6 separate regions of the Homo sapiens genome follow, and regions 1, 2, 4, 5 and 6 are each linked to region 3. The links come from fine-mapping of genetic effects on gene expression. A gene starts in region 3. Each other region holds a variant in brackets. All regions are shown on one strand. Distances are between the middles of the regions. Region 1 holds the start of MVD (mevalonate diphosphate decarboxylase). Region 2 overlaps PIEZO1 (piezo type mechanosensitive ion channel component 1 (Er blood group)). Region 3 holds the start of RNF166 (ring finger protein 166). Region 4 holds the start of HSALR1 (HSP90AB1 associated lncRNA 1). Region 5 overlaps ZC3H18 (zinc finger CCCH-type containing 18). Region 6 overlaps ZFPM1 (zinc finger protein, FOG family member 1).

Region 1 (5,102 bases), 42 kb after region 3:
TCGGGGCCCCTCTGCTGGCCTGTCCAGGCCAAACCCCCAGGGCTGCAGGCCTGGAACCAGGCAGGACATGCTCAGCCCTGGCTGGGCTTCCCCTCCTTGCCCCAACACCAGTCAGGGCCCACCCACGGGCTCCAGCTGTCTGGCTTCCCATTCATCTCCCAGACCCTCTCCCCTCATGAATCAGTGCCACACACAGCCTACCCATACCATACTCAGCAAAGCACCCATGCCTGTGGCTCAGGTGCGGTGGTGTGATCAGAGCTCACTGAAGCTTTGAACTCCTGGGCTCAAGCGATCATCCTGCTTTAGCCTCTCTAGTAGCTGGGAGTACAGGTGTGCACCACTACGGCCAGCTAATTTTGAAAAAATTTTTTTGTAGGCTGGATGCGGTGGCTCATGTCTGTAATCCCAGCACTTTGGGAGGCCTAGGCGGGTGGATCACGAGGTCAGGAGATCGAGACCATGACCATCCTGGCTAACATGGTGAAACCCCGTCTCTACTAAAAATACAAAAAAATTAGCTGGGTGTGGTGGTACACACCTGGAGTCCCAACTACTTGGGAGGCTGAGGCAGGAGAATCACTTGAGCCTGGGAGGCGGAGGTTGCAGTGAGCCTGGGAGGCGGACGTTGCAGTGAGCCTGGGAGGCGGAGGTTGCAGTGAGCCGAGATTGCACCACTGCACTCCAGCCTGGGCAATGGAACAAGACTGTGTCTTAAAAAAAAAAAAAAAAAAAATTTTTTTTTTGTGGATATGGTGGAGTCTCGCTATGTTGCCCAGACTGGTCTTGAACTCCAGGCCTCAAGCAGTCCTCCCAAATCCCAAAGTGCTGCTGGGCTTACAGGCATGGACCACCATGCTTGGCCTATTTTCGACACACATACAGGCTGAGGTTCAGGAGAGCTGGGCTACAGGCGTCAGGGTGGGGATCGATGTGTGACATCTTTCAGGGAGGTAGTTTATCCTAGTTCTCCACTCAATAAGGGAGTCTGCCCACAAGCACACTGTCGGCACCCATTGCTACATGGCTCAACTGTGAGTATAACTTAGATAATTGTAATAATGAAAATAAGGAATGCTGATGGAGGGATAGGATAAGAAGGTATGTGACTGGGAGATGGAAGAGAATTCCTTATTTCTATTGAGTCATAATCAATAGAGGTTATCTAAAACTTAAAAAAATAGGGCCAGGCACAGTGGCTCACGCCTGCAATCGCAGCACTTTGGGAGGCTGAGGCGGGCGGATCACAAGGTCAGGAGATCGAGACCATCCTGGCTAACACAGTGAAACCCCGTCTCTACTAAAAATAACAAAAAAAAGTAGCCGGTCGTGGTGGTGGGCGCCTGTAGTCCCAGCTACTTGGGAGGCTGAGGCAGGAGAATGGCGTGAACGTGGGAGGCGGAGGTTGCAGTGAGCCGAGATCACGCCACTGCACTCCAGCCTGGGTGACAGACCGAGACTCTGTCTCAAAAAAAAAAAAAAAAATAATAATAATAAAAACGCCAGGCATGGTGGCTCACGCCTGTAATCCCAGTGCTTTGGGAGGCCGAGGCAGGCGTATCACTTGAGGCAAGGAGTCTGAGACCAGCCTGGCCAAACATGGCGAAACCCCGTCTCTACTAAAAATACAAAAATTTGCCGGGCCTGCTGGTGCACGCTTGTAATCCCAGCTACTTGGGAGGCTGAGGCATGAGAATCACTTGAAACCAGGAGGCAGAAGTTGCAGTGAGCTATGATTGCCCCCCTGCACTCCAGCCTGGGTGACACAGCGAGACTCTGTCTAAAAAAAAAAAAAAGAGCAGCCTGGGCAACACAGTAAGACCTCCATCTCTACAAAATAAAAAATAAAAATTAGTCAGGAGTGGTGGCACTTATCACAGCTACTTGGGAGGCTGAAGTGGGAGGATCACCTGAGCCCAGGAGGTTGAGGCTGCTGTGAGCTGATGGTGCCATCGCACTCCAGCCTGGACAACAGAGTGAGACCCTGTCTCTAAACAAAAATAAATTGTTTTTTTTTCTACTGGACTTAAACAATCTGCCCTCCTTGGCCTCCCAAAGCACCAAGCCTGTGTCTTCTTTTTCATCACAGCCGTGGCAGAAGGAAGGAGGTGACTGGAAGCCCCACTCTCTCTGAGTAGCTGAGGGAATACACCCTGACTATAGGCCGAGACAGTCCACATCAGCTCTTCAATAGGATTTAGTGGCTTTGCATAAAATGGAAAAGCAGCTGTGATTGCAAGAGAAATTAAAAATAACCACCATCTGAAATGCAAATTGAAAACAGTGAGACAACACATGTCACTCTGGCAGGTGACCCACTGTGCTGGTGAAGGCATGCAGGCACTCTCAGACTTCCGCAGAGAGACCTGAGTAATCAATTGACTTCCACAAAGGGCGACTTGCCAACAGCTATCAAAAGTACTCAGGCACATCCCACTTGGCCCAGCAATTCCACTTCCAGGAATTTCTCCTGCAGAAATACATGTGCACAAACAACGTAGGAAAGCACTGTTTATAGTAACAACCCAACTAGGACAGACCAGGTATATTTAGACAACAAACAAGGAAGCTTTTTACTAAATTGGGATGATCTCTAAGAAGAAGGTACGTAGAAAAAGCAAGGTGGGAGAACACGCTATGTGCTTGTACTATGCACGTCAATGAAAAAATACACAAAGAATTGACAGGCCAGGTGGAGTGGCTCACACCTAATCCCAGTACTTTGGAAGACTGAGATGGGAGGGTTCCCTGAGGCCAGGACTTCAAATCAGCCTGGGCAACATAGCAAGACCCCCCCACATCTCTACAAAAAAATTAAGAAAAAAATTAGCCGGGCATGGTGGTGTGTACCTGTAGTCCCAACTACTGAGGAAACTGAGGTGGGAAGATCCCTTGAGCCAGGAGGTCGAGGCTGCATGGAGCTTTGATCGTACCACTGCCCTCCAGCCTGAGCAACAGAGTGAGAAAAAAAACAGACTTTTTTTCTATTTCTGGAAAAAAATAAAGAATTTATAAGTATGATGGTTCTGGTAATAGAAGTAGGTGGCTAGGCAGAGTGGACACTTCACACTGCATACTCCCCTATTTTCCGAAATCTGAGTTTTTTTTTTTT[T/CTTTTTTT]TTTTTTTTTTTTTGAGATGGAGTCTTGCTCTGTCACCCTGGCTGGAGTACAGCAGCACCATCTCGGCTCACTGCAACTTCCGCCTCCTGAGTTCAAGCAATTGTCCTGCCTCAGCCTCCCCAGTAGCTGGGATTACAGGCGTGCACCACACGCCCACCTAATTATTGTATTTTTAGTAGAGACAGGGTTTCACCATGTTGGCCAGGCTGGTCTCAAACTCCTGACCTCGTGATCCGCCCACCTCGGCCTCCCAAAGTGCTGGGATTACAGGTGTGAGCCACCATGCCCAGCCAATCTGAGCTATTTAAAAACTAAAGGTAAAATTTTAAAAGGGGAAGGGGAAAATGGGAAGTCATTGTTTTAAGGGGACAGAGTTTCTGTTTGGGGTGAGAAAACTCTAGAAATAGTGGGGGCGTGGCACATGATTGGAATGAATGGCAGGGAACGGCACGCTTAAATGTTCCTGTACGTTTCACAGGAGAAGTCAATGCACACACAAGCGCCGCAACCCAGTCCAAGGCTTTGCTCCTACAGGGCCTTACAGGGGGTATTTGAGACGCCCACCTTAATGCAGGTTGGACCCAGCTCCGGGCTGCGGGGCTTCCCCGCCCCGGGGTCTTTCGTGTGAGCCCCGTGGCGGGGGATCCTGGCCCAGGACATGGCGCGGAGAAGGCTGTGGGCGGCGGGACAGGGTGCCTTCGGCTGCCGGGTTAAGAGTGGATCCCGGGATACATCCTCCAGCGCCTGCCCTCGGGCCTGTGTGCACCCCCATACCCAGCGGGGCCGTCCAAGAGCTTCAAGGAGGGCACAGCGCGACCCGCCCTCCCCTCAGCCCCGCACACCGTCCCACGGCCCCGCACAGCCTCCCTCCCACACAGCGCCCCACGGCACCCGCACAGCGCCCCACGGCCCCTTCATGGTCCCCGCACAGCGCCTCACAACCCGCACACAGCGCCTCACGGACCCTTTACGGCCCCCGCAGAGTCTCCCACACGGCGCCCCACACAGAGCCTCACGGACCCCGCACAGCGCCTCAAGGTCTCCGCACAGCCCCCAGCACAGCGCCTCACACAGCCCTTCGCACAGCCCCCCGCACAGCTCCTCACGGGCCCCACACAGCTGCCGCACAGCCCCGCACAAGCCCGCACAGCACCAGCAGACAGGTAGCCCCCACAGGCAACAGCGCCCACCTCGCCGCGCCCAGACCCCGGATCGCCGACGCGGACGCCAGGCGCCTGGGCACACGGCGCCTGCGCAGACAACACCACGCCCCAGGCCTGGCGAGCGCACCCTGCGGGTGGGGCGGACCTACGTCAGCAACCCATCGTCCGATCCCGTCCATTGGCTGAGAGGTAATGCGTGCGCCCGACTCGCCGCTGATTGGTCGGCGCGCGAGCAGCCGGGCTCGCACGGGCCAATCCTGTGGTAGCGCGTGAGGAGGCAGAGGCCTCTGGGGTGGGATCGCGGGCCGTAAGTGGCTGTGGAGCTGGGGTCACTGCGCGGTGGGACCATGGCCTCGGAGAAGCCGCTGGCGGCAGTCACTTGTACAGCGCCGGTCAACATCGCGGTCATCAAGTACTGTGAGTGCCGCGGGCCGGCCTGGGACGGGGATGGCCGGGAGCGAGGCCGGGTACGCGGGGGTCGCGCGCTGATTCGGCGGCGCGCTCCGTCCTGCCCTCCCAGGGCCTCGACAGACGGGGAAACTGAGGCTCAGGGAGGGGCGCGGCGGTGGTCGGGCGGGGCCGCGCGCTCCTTCGCGTGACAAGCTCGGCGCCACCCGTTCCCCCGCGACGGCTGCCGCCCCTGCAGGGTCGCCCGGCGCCTGCCCATTAGCGATTACCGAACTATCGAAATCATCAATCATCGATTCCCATGAATCGTAAGAATCCGCCGTGGTGGTGCGCGTTTGTGGCTCCAGCTACTCGGGAGGCTGAGGCGGGAGGATGGCCAGAGCCCGGGAGGTCGAGGCTGCAGTGAGCGGAAATCGCG
Region 2 (5,000 bases), 39 kb before region 3:
AGAGGGCGGTGAGGCCACGTGCCAAGCCTGCAGCCTGGGTGACGAGGGTAGCAGCAAACCCTCCATCCTGTGACATGTCACCTACCTGCCCTGTGGGGGCCATGTCCATTTTGTGCCCACGTTTTAGGAGAGCGCGTTTTGGAGCAAACACTCAGAGACCTGTCCCCAAAGGCCATGGGCCAAACGTGGGTGGGGCCGGGCCCTCCGCTGGTCTTTGGGTTTGGAGGGTGAAGAGCCACTGAAAGGAAGGAAGGTCCCCAGGGAGGGCAAGTGTAGGCAGCAAGAGACCTTCCCCAGCAGAGGGCAGAGAGGAGGCCAAGCAGGACCAGGGGGCGTGACTGTGGAGACAGGCTCTTGGGTGCCGCCCTTCTGGGAGGTGCTGGACGCATCAGGCTGGCAGCGTCGGGGCCTGTCCATGGCTACGAGGTGTCCACCGGGCTGCGTTTTTCCAGGGGACTCTGGGGAGGATCTGCTTCCTCTTCCAGCTGCTCCAGGTGCCTACCTTCCTGGGCTTGGGGCCCCTCCCTCCATCTCCAGAGCCGGTGGGGTGGGGTCAGGATCACACCCTGTCTCTCCTGCTCCCTCTCCCCTGCGGTAACCCTGTGGCTTCGTCCCATCTGCCTCCCCGGCTAATCCAGGCCGACTTCCCTGGTTTAAGGTCAGCTGTTGGGCAGCCCCCATTTCCTCTGCTGCCTGGACTCGCCTCTGCATGTGAGCTTCTGCGTTCACAGATTCTGGGGACTGGGGTGCAGGCATCATTGGGGTCCATCGTTCTGCCAGCTGCAGGTGGAAGGTCGCTCTCCGGCCTCGCGACATCTGGCTGGAAGCATCCCAGAGGCTCCTCCTAGCTCGTGGTGCTGTGGGGTGGGCAATGGTCTTTTTTATTTATTTTTTTTGAGATGGAGTCTCACTCTGTCACCCAGGCTGGAGTGCAATGGCACGATCTGGGCTCACTGCAACCTCCGCCTCGCGGGTTCAAGCGATTCTCCCGCCTCGGCCTCCCGAGTAGCTGGGATTACAGGCGCCCACCATCATGCCTGGCTAATTTTTGTGTTTTTGTAGAGACAGGGGTTTTACCATGTTGGCCAGGCTGGTCTTGAACTCCTGACCTCAGGTGATCTGCCCACCTCGGCCGAGACTACAGGCATGAGCTACCGTGCTTGGCTTTTTTTTTTTTTTTCGAGTGGGGGTCTTGCTTGGTTGCCCAGGCTGGAGAGCAGTGGCATGATCATGGCTCACTGCAGCCTCCACCTCCTGGGCTCAAGCGATCCTCCTGCCTTAGCCTACCAAAGTGCTGAGATTACAGGTGTGAGTCACTGTGCCCAGCGCAGGCACTGATCTTGGATCATGGGTAGAATTCAGGGGTGCAGAGAGGCATTTTGGGAGGGGCCCAGTGCGGCCGAGTGCTGGGAGTCGCTGGGGCCCGAGGCCCAAACCCCTCCAGGATGCATGGCTGGGGTGGGTGGGCACCCCCACTCCCGGTCCCTATCCTGGGCCTCCCCTTTGCTCTGTGGAGCCGGTTCTGTCTGTTCCCAGGCCCCTGGCGTTTCGCCGTTTGTTCCGTAAATATTTCATGCCCAGGGCGCAATTGGAAACACTTTCCTTTAATCAGCAGTGGGGGAAGGCAGGCGCCCAGCCAGGCCAGGGGAGGAGCTGGGGTGGGAAGATTTGGAGAGGACCCGGGAGGACTTCCCTGCCTGAGCCTCGTCAGAGGCCCTTCAGAGACGGAGATGCTGCCCAGTTTTCCGGGAGGGAGAGAGGAAAGTGTGAGGCTTGCCCGAGCCGAGTGCCCGGGGCTTTATGATTTGTGCAGCTGCTGGGCTTGGCGTGGCCCTGGTGGAAGCTCTGACGCCATCTGAGCCTTGGTCCCCTTGTAGGCGTCAGCCTGATCCTTGGGGGGCTGGAGGTTGAGCTCAGACTGAACAGGGAGGAGAGGGGTAGGGGCTGGGGCTGGGGCAGAGGGAACAGACCCTGGTGCTCCAGGCAGGGCTGCAGGCAGAGCCACAGGGGGTGGCTCCCAGAGACCTGCTTGTCATTTAGGGACTCAGAAGCCCCATCCTGCCTTAGGATAAAACCCACCTCCAAGACTGACCCTGCTGTCTGGAGAGAGATCACCCCCCACCTCTTACCATGCCCCGTGCAGGGAGGCCCTGCCACCCTCTCCAGCTTCACTGGTCCCCCGGCTCTGCCAGCCTTGTGTAGTCTCCATCCTCTGTCTCAAAAGGCCCCTCTCGTGGCCCTACCCCGCAGCTCAGCCCTAGCTGTCGCTGGGTGGGCCTCATGGCTCAGCCTCAAGGCACCCTGGGTCCCTTGGCTGGTCCCATGCACACCCCATGGATCAGGTTCCAGGGGGCTCCCATGCACACCCCACGGATCAGACTCAGGGCAACTCCACACTCCCCACAGAACAATCAGGCCCAGCCCTTGTCCGGCAGGTGTGGGGATGGTGGCTATGGACCACGCATCAGGATGCTGCCGTGGTGGGGCCCCTCAGCCTTTGCAGGCCGTGCCGGGGTCCAAGGGCTCCGGCTCTGGGGGAGGTCCATGCTCTGTCAACCATCCGGTCTGCAATACCCTGGGGCCTCCCCGCCCCTTCCTGTTTCCTCCTGAGAGCCCTGCAAGCTGGAGGGGGAGCCCCGGCCCCTTTTTTTTTTTTTTTTTTTGAGACGGAGTCTTGTTCTGTTGCCCAGGCTGGAGTGCAGTGGCGCGATCTCAACTCACTGCAACCTCCGCCTCCTGGGTTTAAGTGAAAGTGATTCTCCTGCCTCAGCCTCCTGAGTAGCTGAGATTACAGGTGCCCATCACCACGCCTGGCTAATTTTTGTATTTTCAGTAGAAACAGGGTTTCACCATGTTGGCCAGGCTGGTCTCAAACTCCTGACCTGAGGTGATCCACCCACCTCGGCCTCCCAAAGGTGTGAACCACCACGCCAGGCCCCCTGCACCTTCTTCTGGGTGGGCAAGAGCCATGCTGAGCCCCTCCCCTGCCATGGATAGGGGTGGCAAGAATAGTCCATTCCCCATGGGCTCCCTCCGGCAGGCAGCGGATGGGTTGGGGCCCACACAGTGGTTCAG[G/T]AAAGGCTGAAGGGCGGTTGCCGGCCAGAGCTGGGCGGGTCCCTGGCCTGAGCCTCCTCTCACTCCCTTTCCCAGGATGGAAAGGCCACTGTGAGCTGGGTGTGTCCTGCCAGGAGGGAGTTGGAGTCGGGGGCAGGAGACCCACTGGGTCTCCTGGGCTCCTGGAAGAGGCAGCAGTGGGTCCCTGCGGAGGTGGCCTGATCCCCGGCTCAGCCTGGTTTTCCCAGCTTTGCATTTGGGGGTGGGACCTGCAGGGGGAGAGTGACGGGGTGGGCGGGGACAGGGGCTGCAGGTGGAGGCACGAGAAAGCCACCCGACCCCTTGAGGTCATGCTGTTTGCGTCGGAGAAGAGGGCCGGTGTCAGGGTGCCCCCTCGGCCTCTGTGTGCACCTCCCCGCTCCCCGCCCCGTGCAGGTCAGCAGAGCCTCGATCCCTCTGCACGTTCCGGCCCCCTCCCATCTCCAGCAGCGTCTCTTCCCGGGGTGCCCCTCGGACTCTCAGCTCCCTAGTCTGATCCAGCCCAGGCAGGGAGCGGGCGTGCCACGTGGCCAGGAGTGGCCTCCAGGCCCAGCTGCGGCCCCTTCGACCCTGCGGAGGGATCATGGCCCAGCTGTTCTAACATGGCCAGACCAGGACACTCTGGCCGGCCCGAGAACTGAACCGGGAAGGAGGCAGGGAAAGGGGAGGGAGGAAGACAATGGGGAAGCAGTGACATCCGAGATGTAGCCAGAGACGGACATCCTGGACTGTCGTGCAGGGCAAGGCGGGTGGGCGGGAGCCAGGTGGCCTGAGAGCCCCTCCCTGCCCAGGGGTCTCTGGTCAGGCAGTTCCTTCCCGGGCTGCTGGATCGTGTGTGCAGGGAACCCGTCAGCCTGGCTGCCCAAGGGCCCAGATGTCCTCTCAGTGCCCGGGGGTCCTTGACAGCCCCAGCAGGAGCCCCACGTGCCTGTGGGGCAGGCCCCGCAGGTCCCTCTCTGTAGGACTCAGAATACCTTCTCCAATGCCACGTGCTCTCCCTGAGTGCCCAGTGCCACAGAGGGCCCCGCTGGCGAGGTTACTTCAACGTCAGGCTAGAGGGTGCAGCGAGCAGGACTCACAGCCCAGGTTCCCAGGCAGGTGTGGCAGGAGCCCATTCCCTGGGTCGGTGTTCTCATGTCACCCCACGGTGACCCTGCTGTACAGAGGCGGGGGCGCGGGGCCCCTGGCTGGTGCCCTCCTGCTGCCAGACTTGTGCTCTGCTGAAGAGGGGCTGGCGCGGCAGGTATGAGCCCGGCACGGAGGTCGTGAGCAGTGAGAAGCCTGGCACCTATGGGTTCGGGGCAGGGAGGCCCTGGAAGGTCCTGTCCTCCGGGAGCCCTGCACAGCACCCCCTGGTGGTGGCTCCTGTTCGTGTCGGGGCTGCAGCCTCCCTTCCTGGACGGTTTTCCATTCCTCCTTCCCACTCTCCCTGCTGCTCACCCCTCCCATCCTCCACAGGTCAGAGGTCATAGCTGCAGGGTCAGCAGGTCAGGGCCTGGGGCAACCCTAGGAAGGTGTGAGTGTGAGAAGCTGGTCCAAACCTGCCTCGGCTGCCTGGTGGTGCGGACAGGGAGTCCTGGGCATCCGTGAGGGCTGCTTCACGGTCAGGCTTAGGGATGTGCAGGGTGACTTGGACGTGGGTCATGAGTCTTTGCTCCAGAAAGAGGGGGCTGAGTGTCCAAGGCCAATCCCGAGTCTGTCACCTAACACCATTTGTGCTCAAAAAACTGAACAGAGTGGACACAGGCCCTGAGTTTGCGCCCCGAGGCCGAGAGAGGGCAGATGTGGTGGTGACATTCACCACCTTGGACCCAGACCCAGATGCTACCTGTCCCTGAGCTCCAGGAAGTTGTGAGAAGGGCCTGAGCTGTTCTGCACTTTCTCGTGGCCGGGCGTGGCTGGTGGTG
Region 3 (5,102 bases):
ATTCATGTGATCCTTCTGCCTCAGCCACCCAGGTAGATAGGACTACAGGTTACAGATATATGCCACCATGCCTAGCTAATTGTTGTATTTTTTGTAGAGACAAGGTCTCACTTTGTTGCCCAGACTGGTCTCAAACTCCTGGCCTTAAGTGACCCTCCTGCCTGGGCCTCCCAGAGTGCTGAGATTCCAGGTATGAGCCACTGCGCCCAGCTGTAATCTTTGTTCATAATAAACTTTCCAGCCATCTGACTCTGGCTCACTACGTCAGGGGTTCTTGGCCCTGGCTGTATGTTAGAATTGCACAAACCAATTAAGTCAAATTGTCTAGGGGTGAGGCCTAGGAGTCTGCATTTTAAAGCTCTCCTGCAATCCTGGCAGGCAGGGTGAAGAGCAGCACCCGGTACAGAGCGGACAATGCCACTGCAAGAGTCACCCTGCACCTGGGGCTCTAAGTCTCTTCCTTCCTGTCAGACACACTTGATGTGCACAGCAGTCCCTCCCTACGTTGAATGGATACCACGTACAAGAGGCCGAATGACCCCCCTGTGGTTCCTTTACAGACAGTAAAGCAAGTCTGTGTTTAACAGCAAGATGCCAGGTGAGGGACTGCAGGTAACTGGCAAGTATCAAGGCTGGGACATGGGAAGTGACCCCCAGGACCCAGCTTTGGGCGTGGGGAGTCTCATACAAGGAGACACAGGTGCTGGGCTTCACCTCCGCACTGTGGACCAGGAGAGCCTCTGCGCCCTACACCACCAGCTGGGATTCAAGCGTGGTGGGTCCACGTGTACATGCTGCGTCTGGGCTCCTGAAACCACGCTGTCCCCTGTGGGTCAGGGAAGGCCAAGGTTTCTCCCACGTGCTGACCTGAATGATCCCTGGGGATCCCAGCTCGATGTAGATTCCTAAGGCCTTCCCCTAGAGAGCCGGCTCCCCACTGTTCCTTGGGACCAGCAAGCACAGCAAAAGCCCTTCTGGCCACAAGGGCCTAGCATACAGCCACAGCAGCCTCTCCTCAGTGAATTCTGCCGGCAGCCTGGTGTTCTTGGCAATTTCAGATGCTCCTGGGTGGTTAAAGAAGTACCTATCTTGGCCAGGTGTGGTGGCTCATGCCTGTAATCCCAGCACTTTGGGAGGCCGAGGCAGGTGGATCACTTGAGGTCAGGAGTTCGAAACCAGCCTGGCCAACATGGTGAAACCCTGTCTCTACTAAAAATACAAAAACAATTGGCCGGGCATGATGGCAGGCACCTGTAATCCCAGCTACTCAGGAGGCTGAGGCAGGAGAATCACTTGAACCCAGGAGGTAAAGGTTGCAGTGAGCTGGGATCATGCACTCCAGCTGTTGCACTCCAGCCTGGGTGACAGAGGGAGACTCCATCTCAAAAAAAACAACAACAACAACAAAAAAACCACGCACCACCACTGGGAATTAAGAGGGCTAAAAGGAGAGAGACCTGGTCCTCCCTTCAGGGAGCTATGAGTCTAGTGGAAACAACTGAACAATACAATGGCTACAAGCCAAGAAAGACATGACAAGCGCCTGGGGGAAAGCTAGAGGTCTTCCAAGCCTCTATCCTGCCACAGATGAAACAAGCATCTCACACGAGATTAAAAACTTTCACCCAGACCATCTGCCAAGTTCCCAAGATGCTCTGATCCGCCCCTAGATGTATTCCAGCTGCCCCCAAACGCCTGGTCCTCCTACAGCTTATCCCAGTCTAGACACCACGGCCCCACTTCCAACTGTCCCCATAAGTTCCATCAGAAACCTCATCAGGGGATCTGTGGCTAGCTCATGGGAAACTTTCCCAAGCAGGAAACCAATGCTTTCGCCTCCACTTCAACACCAGGGGCACGAGGGACCCCATCAGGAGCAGGAATAAAGTAAGTACATGTTTTTAAAAAGAATTAACAAAGCATCACAAGTTGCGGCTATCCTGTCTGCTAGCGAGGCCATGTTTGCCAGGGTCTCAGCCACCTCCAGGCCTCACCTGCAGAAGGCATCTCCGGCTCGTATCACCACAACGGGCTGCGCTTCCTTGCACTTCACACACTTCTGCTCACGGCTTTGGAGATGGGAGGGGGGAGAAGAGAGAAACACAGATCACATCTTCCCCACGCCTAGTGGGCTTTGGGGAGACAGCTCCTGTTTCTCACCCTGAGTTGGGTCAGAGAAAGGCACCTCGGTACACACACAAACCCAGGCTTGTGTTCTGTCCAAACTTCAAGAAAAACAAAGGCTCTGGGGGGATGTTTAGCCTAGAAAAGCCGGCTCAGGGGGCACATAAAGGCCGCTTTTCAGTCTCCCAAGGCTGACACGGGGAGGCGAGACAGCTTCACGGCACCAGTTCTCTCCGAATAAGGACAGCACTGTCAGCGGCAGAGCCGTCCCCAGTGGCTGCTAGGATGAGAGGCGCGAGCCAGTGGAGTAAGTCCCCTTCTAGGTGGCCGTCACCGCTTGACAGGCATTCCCCGAGTGCTAGGGAGCGAGGTCCCGCTCTCCACGCGGGGCTTCCCGGAGCAAGCCCGGCCGGGACCCTTCGGGGCAGGAGTGCGGCGGGAAGGCGAGGGGCGGCCTGGCGGGTCCGGCCGCCAGCTCTTACCTGGGCCGCGGCGCCGGGGGCGGCTCCTCAGGCGCCGGCTCCCCGTAGTCCTCGCCCACCTGACACATGGGCACGCCGGGTCCCGTCGCAGACTGTGGCGGCGACAGCGCGAGGGCGCGCCCCGATGACGTCGGAGTGGCGCCGTGACGGCCGCGAAGCCCGGCTGGGGGCGGCGCCCTACGATGACGTCAGCGCGGCGCAGTAGCGGCTGTGACTAGCGGGCCGGCCCGGGCCAGGACAGCGGGCGGCGGGCGGCGCGGGCCTGGCCCCGGGATGGCTATGTTCCGCAGCCTGGTGGCCTCGGCTCAGCAGCGGCAGCCGCCGGCCGGGCCGGCGGGCGGCGACAGCGGCCTGGAGGCGCAGTACACCTGCCCCATCTGCCTGGAGGTCTATCACCGGCCCGTGGCCATCGGCAGCTGCGGCCACACGTGAGCGCGCCCGCCCAGGGGCCGCGGGGAGGGGGCCGTGCCCCGCCGCGGGAGGGGTCGCGAGGCCGGCGGCCGCCCCGGTGCAGCTCCGGACTGGGCGCGCGGGGACTCGGGGCGCCGGGGCCTCGGGGCGCGTGGGGTCCGGGTTTCCCTGTGCCGCGCCGCCTCTGCCCTCTGGGCGCGTTCATCCCCCGCCCAGCCTCCTTCGCGCCAGCCGCAGGCGCCCGGTCCGACTGCTGCTTCGGTTCACCGGGCGACCTGCGGCCCTGCCCAAGCTCGGGGTCCCCGGCGGCTGCGGCGGGCGCTCCGGTACTCAGAGGGCAGCAGGTGCCACCGCTCCGCCAGTGGTGGTGGATTTGGGCTTGTGCGGCTGGAATGGGCAGTTGTAAATAAATAACTTGTAGTTTTTGCTATCAACTCTTGTTCGGACCCGCTGTCTGCCTGTTTTGACTACAGAGGAAAGGAGTTCCCTAAAGTTTAGAGGGGCTTGTTTGGAGTCTGATGTTCTTAGTTTTGTTTGAAGGAGAACTTGAGTCACACCGATCACTGAGTAGCCAGGCAGGCTGGTCCACAGAGGAGCAGACACTGACCACCTTGCTGGGGTTTCCAGCTGCACCAGGGCTCACAGCCGGCTCCTCCAGGGTGTTTCAGGAACAGAAACTGGAGGACGTGGCTCTCCTGGCGGGGAGCTGTGCTCAAGTATTCTGGAGCTGCCAGCCCCGTTGGGAGGAAGCCTAGATCAGTGTCTGCTCCCTCCTAAGTGCTGAATAATACAGCTCTTGAGCAAAATCAGCAGTGGCAGGGGAGAGAGAGAGCAGGAGGGCTTCCCCGCAGACATCCAAGCTGCTGAGGTGGTGGAGTGGAGGGGGGTGCACCCAGACTGGTAGGAGGCTCTAGAACATTTTGCAAGCAAAGTCAGCTGACTTCAGGGGCTCCTGGTACAGAGGGAGCTGGGACTGCTAGGTGGATGTGTGCTGGTCACCCACGGAGGTGGCAGGGCCAGTGTCAGGATGCAGAGCTGCCTTCATTACCTGTGTCAGGCAGCACAGGCGCCTGCCCACGCTGGGACAGCTCTACCTACTTCTCTTGTGAGGCTGCTACAGGCTCTGCCCCTGCTCCTCCATCTCACTTAGCCGTGACATTTTGGGGGGGCAGCCTCTGAACGGGAATATTTTTTTTTGAGACAGAGTCTTGCTCTTGTCACCCAGCCTGGAGTGCAGTGGCGCCATCTCGGCTCACCGCAACCTCCATCTCCTGGGTTCAAGTGATCCTCCTGCCTCAGCCTCCAGAGTAGCTGGGATTACAGGCACCCGCCACCACGCCCGGCTAATTGCTGTATTTTTAGTAGACAAGGGGTTTCACCATGTTGGCCAGGCTGGTCTCGAACTCCTGACCTCCGGTGACCTGCCCGTCTCAGCCTCCCAAAGTGCTGGGATGACAGGCGTGAGCCACCGCGCCTGGCAGGACTTCCTTCTTGTGAGCAGGTAGCGGGTGTTTGAAGGTGTGTTCCGCACCTTCTCATCTGTTACTGAGCGCTGTGAGGCTTGACTTAGGCCTTGTTTTAGAAAAGCCTCCCGTAGGCTTTGGGTGCCAACACCTTCACCGTGTGGTCGGCCACAGCATCTCCACTTTCCTAACCTGCACAAATTGGTCTTTGCCCTTCTTTTTCAAATATGTCTTTTCCTAAAATGTAGTTTCCATAACACAGAATGCAGAACCACATGGAATTGTGGAGCATCTTTCCTATAAAACTCCCCTCTGCCATGCTTTTCTTGGTAGAATGACGACCATCCTAGTCTCACCGCGGGTCCTGCAAGAGCTTTTCACACAGCCTTTGCCTTTCAAAGATTTTTCTCCCCGACTTTTCCTGCTGGCTTTTGTTTTCTGGCTGTTCTCTCTCTGCTTCTAACTTTGTTTCTTGTTGGTGTTGCTAAGGCATGCATGCAAATGACCACAGAAAGTTTAAAGGCTCTTCAGGTTCCCTTCGGAAGTTTGTTGCTGGTCTGGTTCTGTCCCCTCCGCAAGCTCCCCAACCAGAGCAACTTCCTCCTCCAGGGTAGATCTCTCA
Region 4 (5,000 bases), 24 kb before region 3:
AACTCAGCTTCCCATCTGGGGTGGGGTCGCTCTGGCCTGCCCAGCTGGCCTCCCCAAGCCCAGCCCCACGTGCCCACTGCCCTCCCCAAGCCCAGCCCCACGTGCCCACTGCCCTCAGGTGTCGGTGATGAACCTGCTGCTGGTGGTGCTGTGGGCCTTCGCCCTGCCCTACCCACGCTTCCGGCCCATGGCCTCCTGCCTGTCCACCGTGTGGACCTGCGTCATCATCGTGTGTAAGATGCTGTACCAGCTCAAGGTTGTCAACCCCCAGGAGTATTCCAGCAACTGCACCGAGGTACCGGCCCCCGAGGGCTGGGACGGGAGGAAGCTCCAGGCAACTCTGTATTCGCAGCCCGACCCTCCTGGGGCAGCTGCCTCAGTGCAGTGGGGCCAGCAATGGAGATGGAGGACTCTCCCCTGGGGGCGCCAAGGGGGCTTCCTGGAGGCAGCATCCTTCGACCTCAACTGTGGACCAGGGGCGCACTCCCTGCACACAAGGGTGTCCAGTAGGGGCGGAGTCCCAGGGTCTCCGGCAGTGAGGACGGGAGGGCCCCACCCCTGGACAGGGAGAGACAGTCAGGCATCTCTGCCTGGGACCTTCTCGCACATCCCTCCTTCTCCCTGGACCTCTCTTCACTCCCCCAGCCCCTGCCCGTGGTCTCCCTGTTTCTCAAACACCTGGTCCCCTTCCCCGTGAAGGTGGCTCCAAGGCTGGCAGCCCCCGTGTCCCTGGCTGGGGAGCAGTGGACCTGCCCCAGAGCTGTGGCTGTGGTGGGCTCCGGGCAGGGCCAGGGGGCACTGTGGCCTGGGAGGGGGCACTGATGCCTGGCCTCTTGCCAGCCCTTCCCCAACAGCACCAACTTGCTGCCCACGGAGATCAGCCAGTCCCTGCTGTACCGGGGGCCCGTGGACCCTGCCAACTGGTTTGGGGTGCGGAAAGGGTTCCCCAACCTGGGCTACATCCAGGTGAGTTGAAGGGCTGGTGGGCGGCTGGGCGGGCGAGTACCCGGCTGCCCCCTGACCCTTGCCCTCCGCAGAACCACCTGCAAGTGCTGCTGCTGCTGGTATTCGAGGCCATCGTGTACCGGCGCCAGGAGCACTACCGCCGGCAGCACCAGCTGGCCCCGCTGCCTGCCCAGGCCGTGTTTGCCAGCGGCACCCGCCAGCAGCTGGACCAGGATCTGCTCGGCTGCCTCAAGTACTTCATCAACTTCTTCTTCTACAAATTCGGGCTGGAGGTGAGGCAAGGACATTGCCTCCCCCTGGGGCAGGGCTTGGCCTTCGGGAGGGAGGGACGGCTGCACCGTGCAGGCACCGCAAGCCTGGCCCCACCTGGGTTTGCCTGGGCCACAGAGGGTGGGGGACTCAGGGCCAGGCACGGCTTCCCTGGACTCCTGTGGTGTGTCGGTGCTGACAACAGGCAGGGGGCCAAGTTAGATCTGCTCTACTGTACAGCCCACCTCCTGGAGCCTCAGTTTCCCCTGCACGATGGCAACTGCCAGCCACTCCTGCCCTCTTGACAGCGCCGCTGGCCCTGTCCTTGCTTGATGCCCGCAGCCTCCAGGCAGGGCTGCTGCAAGCCTGAGGCCTGCTGGGTGGGACAAGAAAGTCCCTCCCCCCAGACTCAGTGCATCCCCACACCCCGCCCTCTCCCCTCCCCAGATCTGCTTCCTGATGGCCGTGAACGTGATCGGGCAGCGCATGAACTTTCTGGTGACCCTGCACGGTTGCTGGCTGGTGGCCATCCTCACCCGCAGGCACCGCCAGGCCATTGCCCGCCTCTGGCCCAACTACTGCCTCTTCCTGGCGCTGTTCCTGCTGTACCAGTACCTGCTGTGCCTGGGGATGCCCCCGGCCCTGTGCATTGGTGAGGGGCACGTGGCTTGGGTGGGAGTGGGCTTTGTGGCTTTGTGGATGCCCGTGGGGGTGTTTCCCGCCTGCCCCAGACTCCTGTCCACCCTCCTAGACTTAGCCTTGGCCTCCTCCAGTCCCTCCTCTCTGCTCCACATCCTACCCAGGCGCCATCACCTGCATCCTGTCTCTCGGGGGCGGCCTGGCCCCCTCCAGGCTCTGCTGTTCTCTTTTCCTTTTTTGCCCAGTATTCTATCTTGAAATATTTCAAACCTTCAGGAAAGTTGTGAGTCACACAAGGAGCACTGCGTCCTCTCCGGGCCCCGTGCGGGTCGGCCGTGATGCCTCACACCCAAGTGCTGCCTCGAGCATGCGTCTCCTGGGTGAGGGTGTCTGAGCCCACAGCCCCACACCCGTGGTCCCGTCTCCTGGCAGTGCCATCGTCAAACGTGTCCTCTGCATTCAAACAGCCCCGGCCTCAGCACCCTTCTTTGTGGCCATTTGGTTTTCAGACGGGATCTGGTCTGATGTTTGCTCTAGTCTCTTGTCTTGGGTCTAAGC[C/T]GCCCCCGCCTCTCCTGTCTCTTGGGAAGTTCCGGAGGGAGGCCGGTAGCGTTGCTGACGCCGTGAGACTGGATTTGCGTGGCTGTCCTGGTGCTGCAGGTCTGCTCAAGGCACACAGCACCCTGCGGTCTGAGATGGGGAGTCACATTTGTGCACGTGGCCGGCTCAGGGGCGTCCCACCTGCCCCACAGTGGCACCCAGCCTGTTGGCACTGGTGGGCTGTGTGGGGTCAGCCTTGTGGTTTTACGAAACAGACTTTCTCTCTGCTGTCTCTGTGTGTCTGTCAGCTGGGATTCCCATCAAGGACAGCTGCCATTTGTTACTGGCTGCTTTCCAAGAATTCTGTCATCCGCAGACCCTGGGCCTCCCCTCTGCTGAGTGGGTCCTGGCCCCTCCGGCCACACACTGTTACATCATCTCCCCGTATTTGGCTGGGCATGGTGGTTCACGCCTGTGATGCCAGCACTTTGGGAGGCTGAGGCAGGAGCATCCCTTGAGGCCAGGAGTTTGAAACCACTCTGGTCAACATAGCAAGAACCCTTTTTTTTTTTTTTTTTTTTTTTGAGATGGAGTCTTGCTCTGTCACCCAGGCTGGAGTACACTGGCACAATCTCGGCTCACTGCAGCCTCCGCCTCCCGGGTTCAAGCAATTCTCCTGTCTCAGCCTCCCTCGTGGCTAGGATTACAGGCAAGCACCACCAGGCCCGGCTAATTTTTGTATTTTTAGTAGAGACGGGGTTTCACCATCTTGGCCAGGCTGGTCTTGAACTCCTGACCTCAGGTGATCCACCCGCCTCCCAAATTACAGGCCTCCCTCCTGGGATTACAGGCGTGAGCTGCCACGCCCGGCCCCGTCTTGTTTTCTGCTCCCAGGCGCTGCTGCCTCATCTTCTGCTACCCAGGCCCAGCCTTGTGCTCACAGCCATTGCTCCAGGGAGCCCAATCGAGTTCTAGGAGCGTGAGGTTTAGAGCCCGGGGTCTGGGCGCTGGGTGTGCCTGTTGCTACAGGGCTGCCTCAGCCTCTGGGCCCTCCAGCTCTTCCTTGTTGAAACATCTGCTTTCGAGCATCACCGAGGCCAGCTCCCCGTCTCCTGTCCACCTCTTCCTTGTTGAAATACCTGCTATCAAGCGTCACCTAGGCCAGCTCCCCTTCTTCTGCCTCCTTCCACGCGGCTGCGCCATGCAGTCGCCATCCTGTGAGATCAGCATGTCCTGGGTTCCCCAACATCGAGGGTAACTTTGTTTTTGTATCGTGAGGTTCCCTCTGTGGCAGATGGGGCTGTGGGTTCAGCATGTCCTGGGTTCCCCAGCATCGAGGGTCACTTTGTTTTTGGGTCGCGAGGTTCCCTCTGTGGCAGATGGGGCTGTGGGTTCAGCATGTCCTGGGTTCCCCAGCATCGAGGGTCACTTTGTTTTTGTGTCGCGAGGTTCCCTCTGTGGCAGATGGGGCTGTGGGTTCAGCATGTCCTGGGTTCCCCAGCATCGAGGGTCACTTTGTTTTTGGGTCGCGAGGTTCCCTCTGTGGCAGATGGGGGCTGTGGGTTCAGAATGTCCTGGGTTCCCCAGCATCGAGGGTCACTTTGTTTTTGGGTCACGAGGTTCCCTCTGTGGCAGATGGGGCTGTGGGTTCAGCATGTCCTGGGTTCCCCAGCATCGAGGGTCACTTTGTTTTTGTGTCGCGAGGTTCCCTCTGTGGCAGATGGGGCTGTGAGATCAGCATGTCCTGGGTTCCCCAACATCGAGGGTCACTTTGTTTTTGGGTCGCGAGGTTCCCTCTGTGGCAGATGGGGCTGTGGGTTCAGCATGTCCTGGGTTCCCCAGCATCGAGGGTCACTTTGTTTTTGGGTCGCGAGGTTCCCTCTGTGGCAGATGGGGCTGTGGGTTCAGCATGTCCTGGGTTCCCCAGCATCGAGGGTCACTTTGTTTTTGGGTCGCGAGGTTCCCTCTGTGGCAGATGGGGCTGTGGGTTCAGAATGTCCTGGGTTCCCCAGCATCGAGGGTCACTTTGTTTTTGGGTCGCGAGGTTCCCTCTGTGGCAGATGGGGCTGTGGGTTCAGCATGTCCTGGGTTCCCCAGCATCGAGGGTCACTTTGTTTTTGGGTCACGAGGTTCCCTCTGTGGCAGATGGGGCTGTGGGTTCAGCATGTCCTGGGTTCCCCAACATCGAGGGTCACTTTGTTTTTGGGTCGCGAGGTTCCCTCTGTGGCAGATGGGGCTGTGAGTTCAGCATGTCCTGGGTTCCCCAGCATGGAGGGTCACTTTGTTTTTGTGTCGCAAGGTTCCCTCTGTGGCAGATGGGGCTGTGAGTTCAGCATGTCCTGGGTTCCCCAGCATGGAGGGTCACTTTGTTTTTGTGTCGCGAGGTTCCCTCTGTGGCAGATGGGGCTGTGAGTTCAGCATGTCCTGGGTTCCCCAGCATGGAGGGTCACTTTGTTTTTGTGTCGCGAGGTTCCCTCTGTGGCAGATGGGGCTGTGAGTTCAGAATGTCCTGGGTTCCCCAGCATCGAGGGTCACTTTGTTTTTGTGTCGCGAGGTTCCCTCTGTGGCAGATGGGGCTGTGAGATCAGCATGTCCTGGGTTCCCCAACA
Region 5 (5,102 bases), 96 kb after region 3:
ACAAATGGTTGATAAGCACAGAAGAAGATGCTCTCATTATCATCCATCATCAGAGAAATACAAATCGCAACGGCAGGGAGACGTCACACCCACCAAGACGGCTGTCATCAACAAGACGGACCGCAGCAAGTGCAGACAAGGATGCAGAGAGATGGCGCCCTCCTATGCGGCTAGCGGGAATGTAAAAGGTGCAGCTGCTCTGCACAACAGTTTGAGGGTTTCTCAAACAGCTAAACATAGAGTGACCATGTGATCTAGCAATTCCACACTGAGGTATATGCTCAAGAAAAATGGAAACCTATGTCCACACAAAAACTTGCACACAAATTCACAACCACAACAGCCAAAAGCTGGAAACAACCCAACGTCCATCAACAGACGAACAGAGAAATGCAATGCGGTGCATCCATGGAGGAATAAAGCACTGACCCACGCTACAACGTGGACAAATGTTAAAAACGCTCGGAGTAGAAGAGGCCAGTTACAAAACGCTGTGTATTGCACACTTCCGTTTCTACAAAACGTTCTGAATGGGCAGATACCTAGAGACACAAAGCTGCTAAGAGACTGGGAAGTGTGGGGAAAATGGAGAGTGACTGCTGATGGGTACAATGTTTCTTCTTTTTATTTTGAGACAGAATCTTGCTCTATTACCCAGGCTAGAGTGCAGTGGTGCAATCTCAGCTCACTGCAACCTCAACCTTCTGGGCTTAAGTGATCCTCCCGTATTAGCCTCCCGAGTAGCTGGGACCACAGTGGTGCACTACCACGCCCTGCTAATATTTTGTATTTTTTTGTAGAGACGGGATTTTGCCATGTTGCCCAGGCTGATCTCAATTCCTGAGCTCAAGCAATCTGTCCATCCCGGCCGCCCAAAGTGCTGAGATTACAAGAGTGAGCCACCGTGCCCAGCCTAGATTTTTTTAAAACAATTTTTAATTTTTTTTTTTTTTTAGATACAGGGTCTCACTTTGTCATCCAGGCTGGAGTGCAGCCGTGCGATTGTAGCTCATGGCAGCCTCCAACACCTGGGCGATCCTGTAATCCTCCTGCCTTGGCCTCCCGAGTAGCTGGGACCACAGGCTCATGCCACCTCCCCCAGCTAATTTTTAATTTTTTTTTTTTTTTTTTAAATAGAGATGGAGTCTTGCTTTGCTACCCAGGCTGGTCTCAAACTCCTGGCTTCAAGCAATCCACCTGCCTCAGCCTCCCAAAGTGCAGGGTGCAAGTGTGAGCCACCGCAAGGTTTCACTTTAGGGGGCAAAAGTGCTCTCATGTTGATTGCGATGATGGCTGCACAACTCTGTGAATATTCTAGAAACCACTGATTGTACACTTTAAATGGGTATGTTGCAGCGTCCATTAATTATATTTCAATAAAGTTGTAAAAAACACCCACCAAAAACATCATCCAGTACTCTAATGTCCACTGACGCCCATCCATTCTGCTCTAACAGTCAAGTATATTTGAGAGAAAAAAAGGGCTGTCCTGAGCCCCAGCGCCTGCCTGTCTCATGGGTCTTGACTGTGCCCCCAGCAGTTGGCAGCAAGGATCATTCTGCACCCAAGGCACCCACTCCGCAAAGGAAAAACAGCAGCCCGCCCGGCCCTCCCCTGCATGCTGGCTGCTAGAGTGCCTCACCCTGGCCAGCAACACGGATGCCCCACAGCACCTGAGCCCAGTCCCAAGCTCTGGGGGCCAGGCATGCTTTGGAATTCAGAACTCTCCTGAGAACAGTAACATGGTGCCCAGGGTGTGAGTTACACACCGTGCGTGGTATACAAGGGCAGCGCCTATTAAAACACACCGATGTTTGCACGTGGACTGTAAGCATTTTCACATCAGTGAGATCCTCTAGAATGAGAACAGCCTCCCAGGAGCTCAGGGCAGATGTCACGGCCTTGGGAGTTTTACAGAAAGGCCCTGCGTTGGAGAGCTCTGGGTTTGGAACTATGGGCTCGGGCTGTGGGCCTGCACTGGTCCCCTGGGCTCCAGAGCTGTGGGCCACAGAGGGGAAGCGCAGGCCAGGGGGACTAGGTACAGAGCTGCATGCCGGACCTCCCCCACACCCCTGGGCTTCAGGAAGCAGGGTCTACCTTGGCGGCTGCGGGGAGCGGGGCTTGGGCTTCCCCTTCTCCTTCTCCCGCTCCTTCTCCCGGTCGCGGTCACGGTGCTGCCGGTCCTTCTCGTCCCGCTTGGCTCGCTCACGCTCCCACTCCTCCTTCCTCCGCTGCCGCTCCTTGTCGCGCTCGCGCTCCCGCTCTCGCTCGCGCTCCCTCTGCCGGCGCTCCCGCTCTCGGTCCCGCTCCCGCTC[CCGCTCG/G]CGCTCGCGCTGTCTGTTCTCTCTCTCTCGCTCCCGCTCCCTTTCCTTTGTTAAAAAGCCAAACACATGGGGACACCGTGCGTTATTTGGGTGACAGAGGCACTGAAAGCCTTGGCTCCAACACCACGCGATCTGTCTGTGTCACAGAATCACACCTGTACCCCACAAACCTACACACAAAACGCCAAGTGCTCCCGACTATGATTGAACTCTCTGCGGTGGAGTACAGAGGAGATGGCAAGAGAGAGGCAGGATCAGGGAGCACCCTCAAGTGGGGATCTCATCTCATTCCCAGCTCTCTCCTTAAAACACAATGTTAAAAACCGGGTCAGATGCCAAATTAGAGCAAACACAAACTAGGAGTGAAATCATCCCAACCACCAATTCTAGACTAACTCAGGGCAGCAATTCTGCAGTCACAGCCCGGTGTCGTTGGCACAGATGGCCTTCCGCCGTGTGGCCTGGGCAAGTCCATTTGTCCATCCAGAGACGGGAGTTCCAGGCTTGTCCCAGGTAGGTGCAGCCACAGCAGAGCACATGCCCTGCCTCTGGAGCAGAGCAGGCACCCAAAAGACTGCTCCTCTTCTTCTAGTACAATCCTCGGATGCCCTTTCCAACTTTTCCTCTGCTCTTACTCATTCATTTGCTCTAATATTCAAGGTTAAAACTGAATAAAGTCCAATCACAACGCACCTGATGGGTTTCAGGCTTGAGGCCTCTGTTGGGGAGATGCAGGGTGCACCCCGAGCCTCCCTGCTGCCCCTCCCTCGGACACAGCAGAGAGGAACGCAGTGGAAAGGGATCCCTGGGGCTTTCTCCCACCTTCCAGGGTACCCTGCCCAGGGGTAAGCAGCAGGACCCTGCAGCCCACCTGCAATGAGGAAGCTGCTTTATGGAGAGACGGGGCACAAGAGCATCGAGCAGGGGGACTTTTCTGGCACGATGGGGCCCTCTTCCCTCTGCAAGCTCACCCTGATGGGCTCCTGAGGAGACAGCCGCACCTGGTCCTCAAAGCTCATGACTGTCCCTGCAGTCACAGAACAGAACTACACAGCAGCTTCTAACTGACCCTTCCCTGGGGCAACTTCGTCAAATCACCCTAACAGCTAAGATGAGGAACTCACAGTCTGAAGCACATAACTCATCAATATGCTAAACTCTGAGGCTCAGACCAGGGAGATTTCCAGGGCGGAAATCTCAGTATAGACCAGTCTTCCATGAGAGCAGTGAGGTGCAGCAGGCCCGGAACAGACTTAACAAGCTGGCTGAAGTGGACCAGAACAGGCGCCACATCCTAAACGGGATCACTGAGGGGTGGGGAAGAGTGACACGCCCGAGCAGGGAGACGCAGGCACCCCTGGACACAGGCATCAGTAAGTATACTGGCAAATCTCATTTTCAAAACCAGGCCGAGCTGGGCACAGTGACTTATGCCTGTAATCCCAGCACTTTGGGAGGCTGAGATAGGCAGATCACCTGAGATCGGAAGTTTGAGACCAGCCTGACCAACACGGCAAAACCCTGTCTCTACTAAAAATACAAAAAATTAGCCAGGTGTGATGGTGGGCACCTGTAATCCCAGCTACTCAGGAGGCTGAGGCAGGAGAATTGCTTGAATCTGGGAGGCAGAGGTTGCAGTGAGGTGAGATCACGCCACTGAACTCCAGCCTGGGTGACAGAGTTAAACTCCGTCTCCAAAACAAACAACCCAGGCCGGGCGCAGTGGCTCATGTCTTTAATCCCAGCACTCTGGGAGGCTAAAGCAGGCGGATTGCTTGAGCTCAGGAGTTCAAAACCAGCCTGGACAACATGGTAAAACCCCGTCTCTACAAAAAAAATACAAAAAAATTAGCTGGGCATGGTGGTGCATGCGTGTGGTCCCAGCTACTCGGGAGGCTGAGGATGGAGAATCATTTGAACCCAGGAGGTAGAGGTTGCAGTGAGCCGAGATTGCACCGCTGCACTCCAGCCTGGGTGACAGAGTGGGACCCTATCTCAAAAAACAAACAAACAAACACCACACAAAAAAACAAAACCATAGCAAGAACCAGTTTTCAGGCAAGTCTTTGTTCAAATGACCATTAATGTAATCGCTGCCTCTGAATTCGTTCTCCGTAACAATCAATTTGGTTTTCAAATTGGTACATTGTGCTGGCTCTATAAGCTCATATAAAGCCCTGTATTTTTTACTGTAAATAAAAAGGGATAACTTGAATGAACAGATCATGAAGTTCATATGTGGATATTGAAGTCATACTTACTCGGTAATTATGATACGGCTCTGTTTCTGTATACTGCACCCTGAAATTCTCATACTGTCCGCCACGCCAAAACCGCTCAATTTCATAGTCATAATAAGGGTCTGCGTAAGGCTCGAGTCTGAAAAGGGCCAATGAAAAAGAACTCTCATCACTTAGGAGCACTGGCGTAAAAAGACCACACGAAACATTAGGGACAGAAAGTAACAGACCGTGACGCAGTGGGGTTTACTCCAGGAGCGCAAGGTTGGCTCAAGGTTAGGAAATCTGTTCACAAACTACATCTAAGAGCAGGCCAGAAGTCAAAGGGTTCTATTCACAGATGATAAAAATGTCTAACAAAAATTCAATAGCCTTTTTGATAAAAAATACTCAAGAAAATAGGAAGTGAGGGCCAGGTGTGGTGGCTCATGCCTGTAATCCCAGCACCGTGGGAGGCCGAGGCAGGTGGATCACCTGAGGTCAGGAGTTTGAGAGCAGCCTGACCAACATGGAGAAACCCCTTCTCTACTAAAAATACAAA
Region 6 (5,102 bases), 170 kb after region 3:
TGGCACCTCCAAGGAGGAGGGGGTTGGGTGTTGAGGGGGTGAGGCTGCCTCCTCCCAATCTTCCTCCCTCCCCCTCTGCAAGGCCCCGGCAGATACAGGGCAGGCCAGAGTGCAACGGCTTTGCTGCCTCCTGGCGTCCTGAGGCTCTGCCTGAGACTCCAAAGCTGGGCTCTCCCGAGGGGTCGGCTTGCGGGGGACAGGTGGGGACCGGTTTTCAGAGCAGACCCATCCGACGGTTGCCAGCTCACGCAGCCCCCCAGCCACAGGTGATGTCCTGCTCTGCATGTTGGTGTCCTGGTGTGGGAGACAGGGCCGGCAGTGGGGGCCCTCTCCACTCCCACCCTTCCTCAGGCAGGCTGGGGTGGGCTTCTGCTAGGCCTGAGCTTTCTGTAAGCCAGGGCGTGGCTGGGAGCCAGTGCCCAGCAGTACGGCTGGTGGTCGAGAACCGAGTGCTGGAAGCCAGCAGAGGGATGTGTCCTGGCCCAGCTGTGCCCGCCAGGTGCCTGGGCAGGAGGTGTGTCCCGATGGAACCTTGGGGCCCTCGTGCACAGTCAGGGCACTCAGCCCATGGTGTGGCTGAGAGGACAGACCCTGTGCCTGGCAGAGGAAGGGGCCTCAGGAGGGCGAGGCTGCCCTGCATCATCTCGTGGACGTTGTGTCCCAAGTAGCGTGAGGGACTCCCGGCAGGCTGGGCTGACCCTGCCTGGGAGTTGCCAGCCTGCAAGGGGCTTTGAGCTGTATGCAGCTCAGGTAGAAGGGAGCAGGTGCCCTCCTGGAAGAAGGAGGGTGGAGGCGGGAGGCCCATCCTGTGCAGGGCAGGGGACGGGTACAGCCTGGCTGGGTGGCCCTGAGGGGGACCTTTTAAGCCAGTCTTGAGGAGAGAAGGAGTTTCACAGGCAAAGCTGGGGGGAGTGGGGAGGGGGGAGGAGTGGGGAGAGAGCAGCTTGGAATGCAGCGGTCCGAGATCCAAGAAGCTCAGGTCACACATGGGACTCAGTGGACAGTGTGATTGGAGAGTGGGCTGTGACGGTGGCCGTGTGCCATGAGTGGACAGTGTGGCTGGAAAGTGGGCTGTGACAGTTGGACTGACTGCTGGGCATGGGGAGGGGCTGGCTGTGGTCCACACACACCCCTGTGACTTCAACAGATGCAGACCCCTCCTCTGTGTCGGCCACTTGTGGGTGCCTGGGAGGCAGAGGTCAAGCAGGCGCAGCCCCAGCTTTCAAAGGAGACAGGCCAGTAGGCGACGGGCAAGAGGACAGAGATGCAGAGTGACCGTTCCTACGTGGGAGTGAGCTGGGGACAGAGGTGCAGAGTGACCATTCCTACACGGGAGCGAGCTGGGGACAGAGGTGCAGAGTGACCGTTCCTACGCGGGAAGTGAGCCAGGGACAGGTCTGAGGGGGCACCTAAGCTGAGAGCTGGATGACAAGGACAGCCTCGGAGGAGTAGAGAGGGCATCAGGAGGCACTGCCTGGAGCAACCAGCTGCAGCATGGAGCCCAGCGGGTGGTGGGCTTAGCAGGGCCAGGGGCTGCCGTCGGGACAGGCCGCCAACGGGAGGCTCCTCTCCTCTGTGCTGAGGCAGAGAAGGGGGACTTCTGACCTCTGAAGGATGGGGCCAGTAACAGAAGGGGTTTTACGCGAAGCACAGGCACCTGGGGGCGGGGACGGGCCTCAGAGCAGGGTGAGCCTGGGAGAGGGGAGCGGTGGCAGCTGTGTGAGGAGTGGACCCTCGAGATTTGGAAGCGGCTGTTCAGAGAGACTCAAGGGTGAAGTCCCAGGTCTGGGAGTCGGCGATGGTGGATGGGTTTGGGAAGCGGTGGGATTTGGACAAATCAAGCATTGCTTTGACAATGAAGGGTGAATAGGCAAGGCTGATGCTCTCCAGCTTGAGGGGCAGGGGGCCACTGAGGATGCCTATGCAGGTGAGGGGAGGAGACAGGTGGGCTGGTGGGGAGACAGGTGGGCTCGGGGTGATGCCTGTGCAGGTGAGGGGAGGAGACAGTGAGCCAGGGGGGTGCTTGCACTGGTGTGGGGAGACAGGTGGGCTTGGGGGAGGGGAACACCTGCACAGGTGTGGGCAGAAGTTACAGGTGCGTGGGGTTACAGTCACTCATGGTACATCAAGGGCCTGGAAGGACACAGGGGCTGTAGGTCTGCAGGTCTGGGGCTCAGGGGAGGCGTGGCTAGACTACAGAATTAGTGGAGAGAAGACCATGAGCCCACCCCAGGAGTGTGGAGGGAGAACTTCAAGGGGAGACCAGGGCAGACTCAGAGCCTTGAACCTGGCTCAGCAGAGAACCAGCTGGGGGGCCGAGGGGGTGTCTGTGAGCAGGGCAGGCAGCTTCCTGGGGAGAGGCGGGAGAAGGCCTGGGCCACCACCGAGTCAGCGGCTACAGGGGAGGCACAGGGTGGAGGCCCAGGCGGTGGTCTGGTGGGGGGAGACTGGGGTGATGGCTTGAGGGAGTAGGGGTGACTGATGGCGTCTGCCAGGTGTGGGGGCCCCAGGGTCTGTGCAGAAGACGCGTGCCCGAGGCGAGTCCTGGGTGCGATGGGGACGGGCTCTGGCCACACGCCAATGACCTGGGACGGGCGATGGCAGCGGTACCCAGCCCTGCATGGTGGGGACAGTAGGGGGTTATGCAAGCCAGGACAGGCGCAGGGCCCTTCGTGAGGCTCAGTGTGCTGCCCTAAGCTTCGAGTCCGGGCCGTGG[C/T]GGGGCCCTCTGGGGTGACTTCAGGTCTGGGTCCCGGTCACAGGGTCCTTGCTGCCTCTGAGATGAGCCCCCAGGAAGGGTTGCCAGGCCCGAACTCCCACTCCTGCGGCACAGGTGTGGACACTGAGGCACGTCTGGGTGCATGGCGGGTTTGTGCGGCACTGCTGGGCTGTCTTCCAGATTCTCCTCTGCGTCTTGCATTCCAGGGCCTCGCTTGGTCAGGTTTGGGGTGGGGCTCAAAGGGGGTGAGGACACTGGAGTTGTGTTTTTTACCCCCTTTGAGCACCTGTCACTCACCAGAGACTGTATTCGTAGTTTCTAGACACCTTTAAACAGTTTACTTTTAAATGTACACACAGTGACAACCCCCCACCAGGTTTCTATTTTTTAGAACATCTTGTACCCTGCGCCCGCACCTGGGGAGGACTTGGGGGCAGAGCCTCCTGAACCCTCCACGCAAATTCATGCACAACAATGCAAATGATGAGCAGACTTGAGGGGTCCGTGCCTCCCGTCCCCGCTATCACCTGGTCTTCAACAGAAGGGGTGTCTGTGAGGAAAAGGCTGCTTGCCTTCCCTGGAGCTCAGGTCCCTGGGAGGGGGTGGAAGCCATGTCTGTCCATTGGCCTTGGCTACGGGCCCCATCTGGCCAGACCCTAGTGGGCAGGTGGACAAAGACATCAGAGACCACTGAAAGCGCTGCAGACCCAGGCCCACGAGCTGCGGGCAGGAGAGCGAGCCCTGGACTGGCTGGGAAGTGCCTCGGGCTTCTGAGGCAAGAGGCCGCTGCCTTCTTTGCCTGCACTCACCAGGGCTGCTGGGCAAAGCTGAAAAAAATGCAGCTAGTTCAAGTAGAGTTGGAAATGGGCTGGGAATGGTAGCTCGCGCCTGTCATCCTAATGTTCTGGGAGGCTGAGGCTGCAGGAGCACTGGAGGTCAGGAGTTTGAGACCATCTTGGGCAACACAGGAAGACCCTGTCTCTATAAAAATGTTTTAAAAGTTAGCCAGGTGTGGTGGGTCAAGCCTGTAGTCCCAGCTACTTGGGAGGCTGAGGCAGGAAGATGGTTTCAGCTCAGGAGTTTGAGGCTGCAGTGACTTATGATCGTGCCACTGAACTTCAGCCTGGGGAACCGAACAAGACCTTAGCTCTAAAAAATATAGGGTTGCCCAGCCTGGGCAACATAGGGAGACACCATTTCTACAAAAAACACAAAAACTAGCTGGGCATGGTGGTGTACACCTGTAGCCCCAGCTACTGAGGAAACTGAGGTGGGAAGATCACTTGAGCTCACGAGGTCAAGGCTGCAATGAGCCGTGAGTATCCCAGGGACTCCAGCCTGGGCAAGAGAGTGAGACCCAAAAATAAAAAAATAAAGTGACGTTGGGAATAGAAGAGTGTTTTTGTTCTCCAGTGAGAAAGCACGCTGGAGGCTGCCCACAGCCACCCAGCTGCAAACGGCACGGTGACACCGTGGCTGAACGCGGTCAGCCAAGTACTCCCTCAGTGTGGCCGGCCCATACAGCCCAGCAGGGCAGGGAAGACGGGGGGTGGGGGTGCCCTGACCCTTGCACCGACTCAGCCACCACAGGTGACTCCACCACACGGTTGTCCTCAGCCCTGGCTCTGAGGGAGAGATGCACCCACCAGTGAGCATCAGGACCCCCTCGAGGCCAGGGAATGCTTCGGCCTCGGTCTCCCTCTCCTGTCCACCTACTCGCCTGTTCTTCCCCCAGCCTTGGCCACCACAGGGCTTCATCCTCCCCAGGGCGCCCCCACCCCTGCCATCCCTGGTGGTCTGTGACTGGATGGGGGACATCGGACCCCCAGGACCATGCAGGGTTGGGGGATGGCCAGCCAGGTCAGTGCCCCTCTCTTCCGTGTCTGGCGGCCAAGTAGACCGTGGAGAGGGTCAGCAGTGTGGAGGCTGCTCTCCCTAGGGGGGTATGGACAGGGCTGGGGTGGGGTAGGCCCAGAGCGGCTGGCCCTGCAGTGGTTCAGTGTGTGCTGTGGCCTCCGACCTGACGCTCGGTCTAGCTCTTAGCACCCAGTGGTGTAACTCCGGCAGGGGCCCAGCCACTCCGGGCCGCAGTGGCCTGTGTACACAGCAGGGCTGGATGTGACACTGGCTGCGTGTGCCTGCTGGCTCAGAGAACTAGGCTGGCCCACCACCATGCTCATCAAACTGAACTTCTTTATTAAGTGCCAAGGGTCCAGGCGGGCGCTGCCCCCTGCGGCCCCCTCCGCCGAGGCCTGTGCGTGGCGGGGTTCCCAGGAGCGGCAGTCCGTGCGGCCTGGGGGCGGCCCCCTCCCCGCATCGCAGCGGGGCGTGCAAAGCGTCTGCGGCTGTAGTGTGGGCGCTCACTTCACGTGCTCGGCGGCGTGCG

The links. PIP is the estimated chance that this variant, and not a neighbour inherited with it, causes the effect.
Region 1: its variant is fine-mapped to the expression of RNF166 in whole blood (INTERVAL, PIP above 0.99).
Region 2: its variant is fine-mapped to the expression of RNF166 in whole blood (INTERVAL, PIP above 0.99).
Region 4: its variant is fine-mapped to the expression of RNF166 in subcutaneous fat (FUSION, PIP 0.95).
Region 5: its variant is fine-mapped to the expression of RNF166 in whole blood (INTERVAL, PIP 0.97).
Region 6: its variant is fine-mapped to the expression of RNF166 in whole blood (INTERVAL, PIP above 0.99).

The regions. Positions count from the first base shown.
Region 1 is chr16:88,662,602-88,667,703 of GRCh38, reverse strand. MVD (mevalonate diphosphate decarboxylase) reads left to right here and starts at 4,613. Exons shown (of 10, transcript NM_002461.3): 1 at 4,613-4,693. The coding sequence starts at 4,624. SNAI3-AS1 (SNAI3 antisense RNA 1) reads right to left here and starts at 4,331. Exons shown (of 4, transcript NR_024399.1): 1 at 4,304-4,331. RefSeq lists silencers at 3,949-4,108, 4,449-4,868 and an enhancer at 4,319-4,368. The variant T/CTTTTTTT (reference allele first, on the strand shown) is at 3,113.
Region 2 is chr16:88,743,412-88,748,411 of GRCh38, reverse strand. The region is part of intron 2 of PIEZO1 (piezo type mechanosensitive ion channel component 1 (Er blood group)); the gene reads left to right. PIEZO1-AS1 (PIEZO1 antisense RNA 1) reads right to left here. Exons shown (of 3, transcript NR_120387.1): 1 at 4,922-5,000; 2 at 4,068-4,820; 3 at 2,664-3,323. Among named protein-coding and RNA genes, the nearest start is that of PIEZO1-AS1, 3.1 kb to the right of the region's middle. RefSeq lists a silencer at 2,785-2,844 and an enhancer at 3,862-4,548. The variant G/T (reference allele first, on the strand shown) is at 3,076.
Region 3 is chr16:88,704,103-88,709,204 of GRCh38, reverse strand. RNF166 (ring finger protein 166) reads left to right here and starts at 2,797. Exons shown (of 6, transcript NM_178841.4): 1 at 2,797-3,034. The coding sequence starts at 2,880. It overlaps CTU2 (cytosolic thiouridylase subunit 2), which reads right to left and starts at 2,702. Exons shown (of 15, transcript NM_001012759.3): 1 at 2,607-2,702; 2 at 1,995-2,069. The coding sequence starts at 2,674. RefSeq lists silencers at 2,434-2,743, 2,784-3,063 and an enhancer at 2,685-3,322.
Region 4 is chr16:88,728,573-88,733,572 of GRCh38, reverse strand. PIEZO1 (piezo type mechanosensitive ion channel component 1 (Er blood group)) reads left to right here. Exons shown (of 51, transcript NM_001142864.4): 19 at 119-295; 20 at 841-966; 21 at 1,038-1,238; 22 at 1,663-1,867. It overlaps HSALR1 (HSP90AB1 associated lncRNA 1), which reads right to left and starts at 2,393. Exons shown (of 3, transcript NR_103774.1): 1 at 2,125-2,393. The variant C/T (reference allele first, on the strand shown) is at 2,413.
Region 5 is chr16:88,608,532-88,613,633 of GRCh38, reverse strand. ZC3H18 (zinc finger CCCH-type containing 18) reads right to left here. Exons shown (of 18, transcript NM_144604.4): 7 at 4,583-4,700; 8 at 2,098-2,366. Among named protein-coding and RNA genes, the nearest start is that of IL17C, 27 kb to the left of the region's middle. RefSeq lists an enhancer at 2,544-3,489. The variant CCGCTCG/G (reference allele first, on the strand shown) is at 2,316.
Region 6 is chr16:88,534,954-88,540,055 of GRCh38, reverse strand. It overlaps ZFPM1 (zinc finger protein, FOG family member 1), which reads right to left. Exons shown (of 10, transcript NM_153813.3): 10 at 3,025-5,102. The coding sequence ends at 5,077. Among named protein-coding and RNA genes, the nearest start is that of ZFPM1-AS1, 6.5 kb to the right of the region's middle. RefSeq lists an enhancer at 1-362. The variant C/T (reference allele first, on the strand shown) is at 2,717.